Linked DNA regions of Homo sapiens: region 1 is linked to region 2. A link means that fine-mapping ties the variant in region 2 to the expression of a gene that starts in the linked region. Tissue or cell type: whole blood. Region 2 holds a variant in brackets; the other region holds the start of a gene. Each region is shown on its reference strand, or each on the opposite one. Region 1 holds the start of ATP2B1 (ATPase plasma membrane Ca2+ transporting 1). Region 2 holds the start of FFAR2 (free fatty acid receptor 2).

Region 1 (5,364 bases), not on the chromosome of region 2:
ACTAAGCCTGTGGGAGAAAAAAATTGAATTTCTTAATGTAATGTGAACAGTTATTTCTATATTGCTTTCACCCTTTATTTCCTATTTGAAGAATAAAAATATAAAAACCAAACTACAGTACAATTTTCTTGACTATGACAGTAAAAGTTTGTCATTGCATATGACTCACATTTCATTAAAATGCATACAAATATGTTCCGGGATACACACACACACACGTTTTCATTTATGGATATACATGAATATATATATTCCGTATGTTTCATTTATAGATTTATCGATATAAATGAAAACTTAATTGAATCGTGTTCTTAAATAAAGATGCTCAATAATTGTTTCATGACCACAACACTTTAAGAGCATTCATTTTATAATCTGGAACTGGAACAAACCCACAAAGTGAACAGATTCTAGTTTATTACCCATTTTGCTAGTGTACTATAGCAATGATTCACATATTACTTTAATGTCAAATTCTTGATTAAAGTAGAATACATAATTCAACATTGTATTGTAACTTCCTTGGAGGAAAAGTTGGAAAAAAGCCAGTGATTCTTAAATGTCTCTGAGTCGTTTTGAAAGATATTTTAGGGGGAAATAATATTGAAATTTATTAGGTGAAATTTAGGTTATTCTTCTGTTAAAAAGATTTGAAATAGTGTCAGGAAGGGCTATTTATTGTACCACATTAACCAATTCTCCATCAGTGACTGAAGAGAGGAAAAATGCTATCATTCTGTTCAATGTTCGTTTATCTTACACATCAAGGGCACAGCTCAGAAGGCTGGTAATGTCAAGCCTAGTGAGATACATAAACTGATAAAAAAATTATTTGCAACAGCATTGATTTATATTTATTCACTTTTAAACGTCTTTTACACATTTTGTGTCTAATCTTTTAAAATATTTTAAAACAAATGCTATCATCAGATCGTGAACATAATACCATACTTCCTATTGCCTGTATGCTTTTGAGGAGGCTATATAAATATTAATTTTCCAGTTCTGGAATTAAGAGAAAGAAGATTGCAGAACTTATCTTTTTGTTCTGATTAACTGATACTGAAAATAACACTGACAAGGTCTCTGGGCCAGTGGCGACGGTGAGTTCAAATAAAGATTAGATGAAGATGAAGCGCGGTATCTTAGGTAAGATACACATCTTTACTGTGTATATGCGTGTACAAGAAGGAAAACTTGCTTTTTTTTTTTTAAGTAGATGTTACGAAGGATGGTTTTTTTTTTTTTTTCAACTTGCAAAATCTCTTGAAGGTTGGAGCAGAGCCGCCGGTTACCTTTGAGCATCGAAATACCGCAAGTTATCCCGTTTCCTTTTCCCCTCAGGAAAGATGGGTGCAGGGTTGAGATGTTACAAGAGAATTAAAAGAGAGCCACCAGCTTGGCATAGTAGAAGAAACAAACCCAAAATGAAAACACCCGGATTTTAAGCGCGGATCCTGCGAGGCCGGTTTGCACTGGCCGAACGCCTGCGTTAACCCTTTGGGCGCCGCAGCTGGGATCCCCGGTGTTTGCGGACCCGACCGGCAGGAACAGAGATGGAGTGTCCCGCGCCCGCATGGGGAGTGAGCTCTCTTCCCCAAAGAGGGAGCGAGCCGAGAAGCACTTTTTCCTCCGGTGCGTGCGTCACGGCCCGGGACAGGCGTCGAGTCCGGTTTGGAGTGGGGGCAGAGACGCGGCGAGGAGCCGCTCAAATGTCCGCTGACTGGGGGTTCGCCTTAATCTGTCCTCGCCAGGAGCGCTCGCCCTCGCCCTCCCGCTGGCTCGCTCCTGGGCCCTGGAGGGGCATGGGCCCGGGGGCGGTTCGGGAGGGGCCCCAGGTGAAGGGCGCCCGCACTTCTCCTGCGGCAATCATCGCTCTCCTGCCTCCACACGTCGCGGCAGCGGCCCGGCCCCGCGCCGAAACAGCAGCTGTGACTGACGGAGTCACCTCCCCGCGCGCCTGGCCACCCCCTCCTCCCCCGCCGCTCCCTCCTGCACCAACACGTCATGGAAACACGGACGTCAGAGCCTCTCAGCCAATCGCAGGCTGCGGCAGGAGGGAAGGGGCGCGCTGGAGGGGGCGGGGGCAGCGGCAAGCCAAGGCGCTCAGGGGAAGGAAGAAAGGGAGGGGCGTGCGGAGGCGCAAGTCCCCACCTCCGCCCCTCACTCCGGCCACCCTTTCCCGACCGCGCGGCAAGTTCTAATCGCCAGGCGCGCGCTCGCCAGCCGAGGGCGCGCTCGCCGGGTCCTCCCCTTAAACGCCCTCCCAGTGCCGCTCAGCTCCCAGTCCCGGTCCGAGCCGCGGTTCCTCCGCGCGCGCGCGCGCGCACTCGCCCGCCCCCAGGCTCCCCGCGGATCGCGTCACGTGACCGCGCTCAGCCAAGGCGGCAGCGGCGGCGGCGCGAGCTTCGGCGGCGGTGGCGGCTGTGGCAGCGGGAGCAGCTGCGCCGCCAGCGTGGAGCGGGAGGCGTGTGGGTGTGGAGAAAAGGGAGCGCCAGACCGGAACGGGTGAGCGTTCTCCTCCCCCTGCCTACCCCGGCAATCTTGCAGGCCACCCGGTGCAGACGGGGTCCCTGCCCGGAGCTGCGCGCAGCCCCCTCGTGCTCGGCCGTCCGCTCTCCGGTGCCCGCGGGCCCCGCCCCGAGTGGGGCGGGCTGCGGCGCTCACGGAGGTGGCTGCACCCCGCCCGCGGCTGCTGTTGCGGACGGCGGCGTGAGGCCGGCTGAGCTGCCCGTGCCGAGCGAGCGCGGCGCGCCCTGTGTGCCGCTCTGCGGAGCCGAGGAGGCGGGTCCTGCGGGGACGCGGGCGGCCACTCGGTGGCTGCCGGGCTCTGGGCGGGGACGGCCGGGCGCCGCCTCCTCCTCCTTCGCTGCCGCCGCCGCCTCCTCGCAGTGCAGCGTGAGTAGGGAGCCCCGGCTGGTGGACGCCGAGCCTCTCGGCTCCTTGGCCGCCCCATCCCCGAGGTGCAGCTGCACCTCCGCGTGGCGCCCCGAGCCCTGCGAGCCGGCTGCGGACGCGCTGAGGACGGAGCCCCCATCCTCTGCGTTTCCCGCTGCCCCTTAACGCCCCGCGACCCTCCCGCAGCCTGCCTTTCCTTCCCCCTCGGAAAATGGTTCCCACTGCCGGGCGAGGTGAGTGGCGGCCGCCGCCCGCCCGCGGCCGGGGGCGGCGGGGCAGGTCACCTGCGGGGGAGGCCAGGCGGAGCACGGAGGTCGGGCGTCGCGGCGGGGATCCTGATAGCTGGGTGCGCAGCGGGTTGCGCCGGATTCGGGAGAAGCTGACGGGGGCGGTCGGGGCCCCTCGCAGGTTGCCTCTTGCCGGGAGATTGTGAAGGTGAGCGGGCTTCTCGCCGTGCACCTCAGCGCCGGGTCAGTCTGGGAGTCGCTGCTCCGGGCCCGAGGGATGGGGCTTGTTGGGGCTTCTGGTCTACACCCGCAGGTCTTCGGCTTCACGAAGCCGCCTCGGCCGCGCCACAGCCCATCCCGCCACCGGTCGCCCCCGCCACGGCGCGTGGTGACCTTGAGGGCACCGTGCCCGGCACTCCCTCTCCCCGCGCCCCGGGAGGGTCACCCCTCTAATCCTTGGCCTCGGCCCCCCAGACGCACTGCGGGAGGGGAGCGGGGGCCCCTGGTCGGCCCCTGGCCCTGGTGGTTGATTGTTGGCGTGTCAGGACGGTGATTCCTCGGGAGTTGGAGAGCCGCCTGGTCTTTCTCCTCACGCCTTCCGTCTGGCCCCCCAGGATGTTCACAGTTGTTTCCGATTCGTGTTTATTCACTTAGTTTAAGAGAAAAAAGCCTGCGCCCCCACCTCCCTTTTTGAGGAAGGAGTCTGTAGGAGGACCGCGTTCCAGTGGCAGGGGTGTGGGGTGGGGGCTGTGCTCTCTTTATCCCATCCTGCGGGAGAATCCTGTGGCTAAGCTGGTTAGCGACCCCTGGTTCTGCGCCGCGGTCACCAGCCAGGTTGGTCTCTGTGCGCATTTCATTCACCAGTTTTCTGCGGGACTCGCAGCGCTGGGAGTGCTCGCACCCTGTGCGCTGCTTGGCTCGGAGGGGAGGGCAGGGCGTCCGGGTGGGTTAAAGGGGTCTGCAGGTACTTGGAGGGCTCGACCCTCCTCGACAGGCTGATATTTACCTTTTCTTTGGGTTAGAGCGCTGCAGACAGCCACCTTTCGCTTCTGTGCCCGCTACTTTTCTTGGTTTATTAATAATCTAATGGCTTCTGTTGGTATCGATTGCTGTTCGTGATAAATTAGCTACATAGATTTTTTTCATACGTGTGTAGGTATATGCATATATCTGAACTTGTCTGCCTGTCAACATGGAAGCCTTTGTTGTGTTTAACCTCCCCCACCTGAGGACAGTCTTATTTTAAAATAAGGCTTTTGTTCAGCGTGGGTGTATTTTATAATAAGAAGTACTTGTAAGGGCCTGGTTTGTATGAGGCTCTCATCTGGCAGAGGGTGTGTAACCCTTTGGATGGTGGCCCACGTGAGTGAATGGAGGGCCTTCACCACTTGCCCCGATGCCAGCCTTCCCGAGACTCCCTGTCCTTGTGTGTGGCAGGGGTGGATTGGGGGAATTAAGAGGGATTGGAGGAGAATCTGCTTTTTGTACTTGTGCGTTTCATTTGGGTCCTCCTCCTCCCCTCTCTTTTTCTTTATCCTCCTGGTGAGTTCAAATTTGAAGTAAATAGAAACATTTTTTTTTTAATTGGGAACCTTTGATAGCTAGTATATGAAATGGGCTTATTTAGCTATGATTTCAGGAGGACGTTTTAGTTTTTACCTTGCTTTAGATAAGACAGCTAAATTGCTGTAATTAAGGGTGGATCTCTGTCCTGATTTTGGCTTGGGTGTAACTGCAAAGATCTTTGAAAAGTAACTGTTAATTTCCTACCATATAGTCTGCAAAAGTGAGTCACATTCGGGTGAGTTGAGGACAGAGCGCCACCTTTAATTTAAAATTTCGTGATTTTCTTTTATTAAAATGGTGAAAATTCGGGGTACGCCTTCTTGATTTTTATCGCAGCTGTCATTATTGGCATCCCCATTTTGACGTGTAAGGGGGAATTGTCTTCATTTTTCTGTATTCTCTCATTTCTCTTTTGAGAGAAATTTCTGCAATTGTATGGGAAATCTTTTTTTTATTGAAGCTTGGGATTTTAGCATTCTGAGATGAGATGAGAAACTAGTTTTGATTTGTGTTTATAATAATATTGATGGTCTGGATATTCTTGGTAAAAGAAGGAAAGTAATAGCTGCTTTTAATAGGTGGTTTGAACTAGCCATTGCCACCAAATAAAGGTACCTACCAGTATGACAGTGGCTTTACAATTTTTTTTTTTTTTTTAGCTGTAGGCCTATTA
Region 2 (5,364 bases):
GAGAGAGAGGACAAAGCAAGGAAAAGAATGGTACAATATGAGTTCCTTGGGGGAAGCACTTTTTTTTTTTTTTTTGGAGACAGAGTCTCGCTCTGTTGCCCAGGCTGGAGTGCAGTGGCGCAATCTCGGCTCACTGCAACCTCTGCCTCCCAGGTTCAAGTGATTCTCCTGCCTCAGCCTCCTCAGTAGCTGGGATTACAGGCACGCACCACCATGCCCGGCTAATTTTTTTTGTCTTTTTAGTAGAGATGGGGTTTTACCATGTTAGCCAGGCTGGTCTAGAACTTCTGACCTCAGGCGATCCTCCCGCCTTGGCCTCCCAAACTGCTGGGATTACAGGCATGAGCCACTGTGCCCAGCCGGACGCATCTTTTTAAATTAAATTTTTAAAATTGAGAGACAGGGTCTCACTGTGTTGCCCAGGTGGGTCTCCAACTCCTGGGCTCAAGTGATCCTCCCACCTCAGCCTCCCAAAGTGCTGGGATTACAGTCATGAGCCCCTGCAACTGGCCAAGGAAACATTTTGATGATAGGAAAGCTCTGCAGGTTTCTGAGCAGGAGGGTGACATGTTTTAAGGCCCTGTGGCAGACAGATGACTGTGAATCGGAATCACCCTGCATCCTTTCTAAGTCCGGACTCTCTATTCATCCCTCGAAAGACGATTCCGTCAGTGCTCTCACTTCCTTTGCCCACACCACCTCTTTATCTTAAGATGTTTCTGTGGTTTCAGATGCATCACTTTTCCCCTTTGCTGCTGAATCTGGTTCTCTCTCCTATTTTTGCCCTCCCTGTGCTTGCAGCAGTGTTACAAAAATTGTGGACATTCACTTCAGAGTTTTATCATCTTTATTTTCAATTTGCTAGACCAGGTTGCTTTCCCCTGTATGAGGGAGTGCCAATCTCTGATTGCTGGGTACCAAACCACATCCTGGCCTGTGTGGGGTACCATGGAGGAAGGAGATAAGACCCAGACCCCTGGCAGCTCCCAGTTTAGCAGGGGAGACAAGACAACACATGAAAACAAACAGAGCACATCAAAAAGGCAACAGGTCAAACCAATGCAGGGAAACCCCTATCATTAAAGGTCTAAGCCCTGAGGCCTCCCTGCTCATCTCCAGGCTCAGAACCTTTCTGAGTCTTCTTTGACCTCATTTAGTATTTCTCTTCCATCTCTCTCTTGTTGGTTTATCTCCAGGATCAACCGCTAGAGCAGTGTCTAGGTGTTGCTTTGAAGCTTGTATCGAGATTTCTCTAGGACTCTCTGCTTCAGCCTGGCCATCCCCAACTACCAGCCACATCACAAGGACTGGACTTGTGTTAGCTACGCTGCTTCTCCAGCCTGAAGGTGCTTCTTTTTTTTTTTTTTTTTTTTTTTAAATGGAGTCTTGCTCTGTCGCTAGGCTGGAGTGCAGTGGCGTGATCTCAGCTCACTGCAACCTCCAACTCCCGGGTTCAAGGATTCTCCTGCCTCAGCCTCCAGAGTAGCTGGGATTATAGGCATGTGCCACCATGCCCAGCTAATTTTTTTGTATTTTTAGTAGAGACGGGGTTTTCCCATGTTGACCAGGATGTTCTCAATCTCCCGACCTCAAGTGATCCACCTGCCTCAGCCTCCCAAAGTTCTGGGATTATAGGCATGAGCCACCACACCCGGCAGGTGCTTCTATACCTAACTACTTCTTCGTGCATCTCTGACTTATGCTCCTTTGAGTAGGACAATTCAGTCAGGAAGGGATACCAAGCTGGTGAAAGGCATTTTTTTCAAAGTCGCAGTCCTGGGCTGGGTCTAAGGATTTCTGAATCTGGATGGGAGCCTTCCTGCTCCGCCTCTCCCAGGCTTCCCAGCTCCTGTGTAACCCAGGCGACCTCTGAAGGTCCAGGGAAACTGCTACTCTGTAGTGAAGTCCGAACTTGGCATCCCTTCTCCTTGACCCACACCCCTGTCCTCATTTGTCCCCTCTGCTGTGTCTTTGCCTCTGCGTCCCAACAGGGAGGAGCCCTGATTCCGCAGCACCTGCAGCCCTCTCCCAAATGCCCTGCGCACCACTGAAGAAGAGAAATAGAAGAGCAGGGGGTCCAGACTGGCGTTGAGTGAACTGAACACCACGGCTATTGACCGCCACCAGGGGCTTTTTCTCTGGTGATACCCCACCAGGTGGGACACGTTGTAAGGTCCGAAGCACACCAGGAAATTGAGCAGCGTCACCACAGCCAGCCCCACGGCTCGGCGCCGCCTCTGGGCCCCCACA[A/T]GGGGCTGGGAGAGCATGATCCACACAAAACGCCAGTAGCAGAAGATGGTGACTGCCATGGGGATGAAGAAGAGCACCAGGCACAGCTCCAGCCGCACGGGCAGCACCACGTCCAACTGGTTATCGGTGAAGTTCTCGTAGCAGGTAATTTCATTGCCACTTCTGACCTGCTCAGTCGTGTTCAAGTATTGAACGATGATCACGATGGTGCAGTGACCAAAGGACATAACCCAGGCCACCAGAGCTGCAATCACTCCATACAGAGGCCGGCGGGAGAGCTTGTACTGCACGGGGAAAGCCACTCCCAGGTAGCGCTCGATGCTGATGCCCGCCAGGAGCCACGTGCTGCAGTAGATGCTGCTGTAGAAGCCAAAACTCGTGAGGGCGCAGACGACCTTGGGCAGGTACCAGCGGAAGTTCGACGCAGCCTCGATGATCTTGAAGGGCAGCAGCAGCAGCAGGAGGAGGTCGGCCAGCGTCAGGCTCAGCAGGAGGATGTGCACAGGTGCAGGCTGGGGCTGGCGGATCCGCCCCACAAAGGCCCGCAGGGCCAGGAGGTTGGCAGGGAGGCCAGTGAGGAAGATGATGATGTAAGCCATGAGGATCAAGGAGCTCTTCCAGTCCGGCAGCATCCTGGAGGGGAACAAAAAAGGGCGGGGTCAGGGAGGTCTCACTCACAGCCCGCGCAGCCAGCTCTCCTTCAGGATGCGGACATCCTCCCCGGCACCGTCCCCTTCCCAGGACTGTGCTTTCTGATGCCACCACGGCTTGCTCACACCACCTGCTCGAACTACCCAGAGCAATTATTGACTTTGCCTGGGGCGGGATATTAAGCAGTAGTGATTATGTTTGCCATCATGTGTCTCTGGAGGAGACCAACTCGTGGCTTCCCAAGGGAATTCCCCCTCCAGTTTCCCTAGCCTTTCTCCTCCTGTCCTCACAGATACAGGAAGTTACTGTTGCCAGTTTCTAACTTTACTCAAGTCCCTTTCTCAGACAGAGACCTGCAGGAGAGAAAGGCATCAGTGCCGGGAGAGAGCTGTAAGATGCTTATCAGTATAAAGAGGCTGTGGCGCCCCAGGCGCGGATACCCAGTGCCAGCTCTCCAAAGGACCCAAGTGCCCAGCCACCAGCCCAGCTTCCTACTTCCGTTCGTCTGTTTTGCAGAGCACAGATTCTCCCCCACCTTGTCCTCTCCTGTCCAACACCAAACTCTGGGACTCTCTAGAAAAGGGGAAGCTGGGGCTGGGCGCAGTGGCTCACTTCTGTAATCCCAGCACTTTGGGAGGCCGAGGCGGGCAGATCACCTGAAGTCAGGAGTTCGAAACAAGCCTGGCCAACGTGGTGAAACCCCATCTCCACTAAAAAAAAAAAAAATTAGCCGGGTGATATGGCGGGCACCTGTAATCCCAGCTACTTGGTAGGCTGAGGCAGGAGAATCGCTTGAACCGGGAAGCAGAGGTTGCAGTGAGTCAAGATTGCGCCATTGCACTCCACCCTGGGCGGTAAGAGCAAAAACTCCGTCTAAAAAAAAAAAAAAAGAAAAGAAAAGGGGAAGCTGGGAGGCTTAGAGGAGGGTGGAGGGGAAGAAGGATGAACCAGCACTAGCCTTAGGAGGAAGGCTTGTCCCTAGAAGACCTTAGAGAAATATTCAGAAAAGCCCACAGGCCTTCACTGGCCCTTGAGCGTGGCATTCTGACCATAAATAGAACTCGTCTTCTTCACGGGGTAACTCAGTTTCCACTTGGGGTGTCACCCTTGCTGGCCCCAACCCAGGTCCTGTCCCTCTGTCCACTCTCCAGCCTTGATTTCCTGGCTGTTTCCTTGCTCCTCACACTAGCTCCTGTCTCTGGGTATGAGTCTTCCATTTGGTTCTGACATCCTTCCTCCAGTCTCCCAGAACCTTCCCCTCAAACCTGATCCTGGCCTCTCTTCCCAGAGCACAAGCACTACACTAGCTGCCTTGCCTTGTGTTGTTCCGGATAGGTGGCTTCTTGGGATTGGTTCTGAAGGGAGGTCTGCAAGCTTCCAGGAGAGAGGAACAGAGCTTTAGCCCCTGCTTCTGTCCATGCCATGCAGGAAAAAATGGTGAGGAACCTGGCTGGTAGTAAGCATTTATACTAGCACCAGCCACGTGACCAGAGAAAGGAAGGTCAGTCTTTAAGCACTATTTCCTCTCAAACCCAAAGGAAAGGCCCAGCATCTTTATTCTCTCCCTAGAGAATCCTCACTCTTGACTTCCAAATTCAGATTTTTCTGTCCTTAATTCCTGATTTAAAAAAAAAATTCCCAGGCATTTTTCTTTTTTTACTTCCCAAGTCAGATTATTTTCTTTTCTCTTTCTTAGGCAGTTTCTTCTGTCATTCTGCTCATTCTCAGAAATGAGCTTTCCTCCTTCCTTTTTATTTTTCCTCTTTTTTTTTGGTTTTTTTTTTCGAGGCTGAATCTTGCTCTGTTGTCTAGGCTGGAGTGCAGTGGCGCCATCTCAGCTCACTGCAACCTCTGCCTCCCGAGTCCAAGCGATTCTCCTGCGTCAGCCTCCCTGGGATGACAGGCACCTGCCACCACGCCCAGCTAATTTCTGTATTTTTAGTAGAGACAGGGTTTCACCATGTTGGCTGGTCTTGCACTCCTGACCTCAAGTGATCCGCCTGCCTTGGCCTCCCAAAGTGCTGCGATTACAGGCGTGAGCCACTGCACCCGGCACTCCTTCCTTTTCTTCTTCAATTTTTTTACTTTCTCTATGGTCTCCTGCCCTCTGCCCCCAACACATTTCTTTTGCCCGTCTCAGCTGAAACAGGCTGGTCCTGGCCTGCATCTTGTTGTGATGGAAATGGTGTGGGAGTTATAGTCATGCAGATATGGGCTCAAATCCAGGTCCCTTCATTACAACCTTGGGGGCAGATCCGTTTTCTGAAGTCTAGTTTGCTGTAGTCAAGTGAGCATGCGAATTCTGACATCCTAGGACTTCTGCGAGGATTCAGTGAGGTTGTGTATATAAAGCACTTAGCAGATGCCCGTAAGTGCTGCCTCGTCTCAAGCCTGTAACGCAGCTTCACAGAGAGTGAGCCACTTGGTGCAGCCTCCAGAGGCTCAGGGCATGGATGTGCTGTC

The links.
Region 1: ATP2B1 starts here. The variant in region 2 is fine-mapped to the expression of ATP2B1 in whole blood (TOPMed, PIP 0.97).

What each region holds. Positions count from the first base shown.
Region 1 is chr12:89,706,363-89,711,726 of GRCh38, reverse strand. It overlaps ATP2B1 (ATPase plasma membrane Ca2+ transporting 1), which reads left to right and starts at 2,889. Exons shown (of 21, transcript NM_001366521.1): 1 at 2,889-3,131. It overlaps ATP2B1-AS1 (ATP2B1 antisense RNA 1), which reads right to left and starts at 2,772. Exons shown (of 1, transcript NR_028138.1): 1 at 1-2,772. RefSeq lists silencers at 1,651-2,200, 2,221-3,240, 3,391-3,620 and enhancers at 3,811-3,910, 3,921-4,010.
Region 2 is chr19:35,447,233-35,452,596 of GRCh38, reverse strand. FFAR2 (free fatty acid receptor 2) reads right to left here and starts at 4,340. Exons shown (of 2, transcript NM_001370087.1): 1 at 4,218-4,340; 2 at 830-2,883. The coding sequence starts at 2,882. The coding sequence ends at 1,890. The variant A/T (reference allele first, on the strand shown) is at 2,251.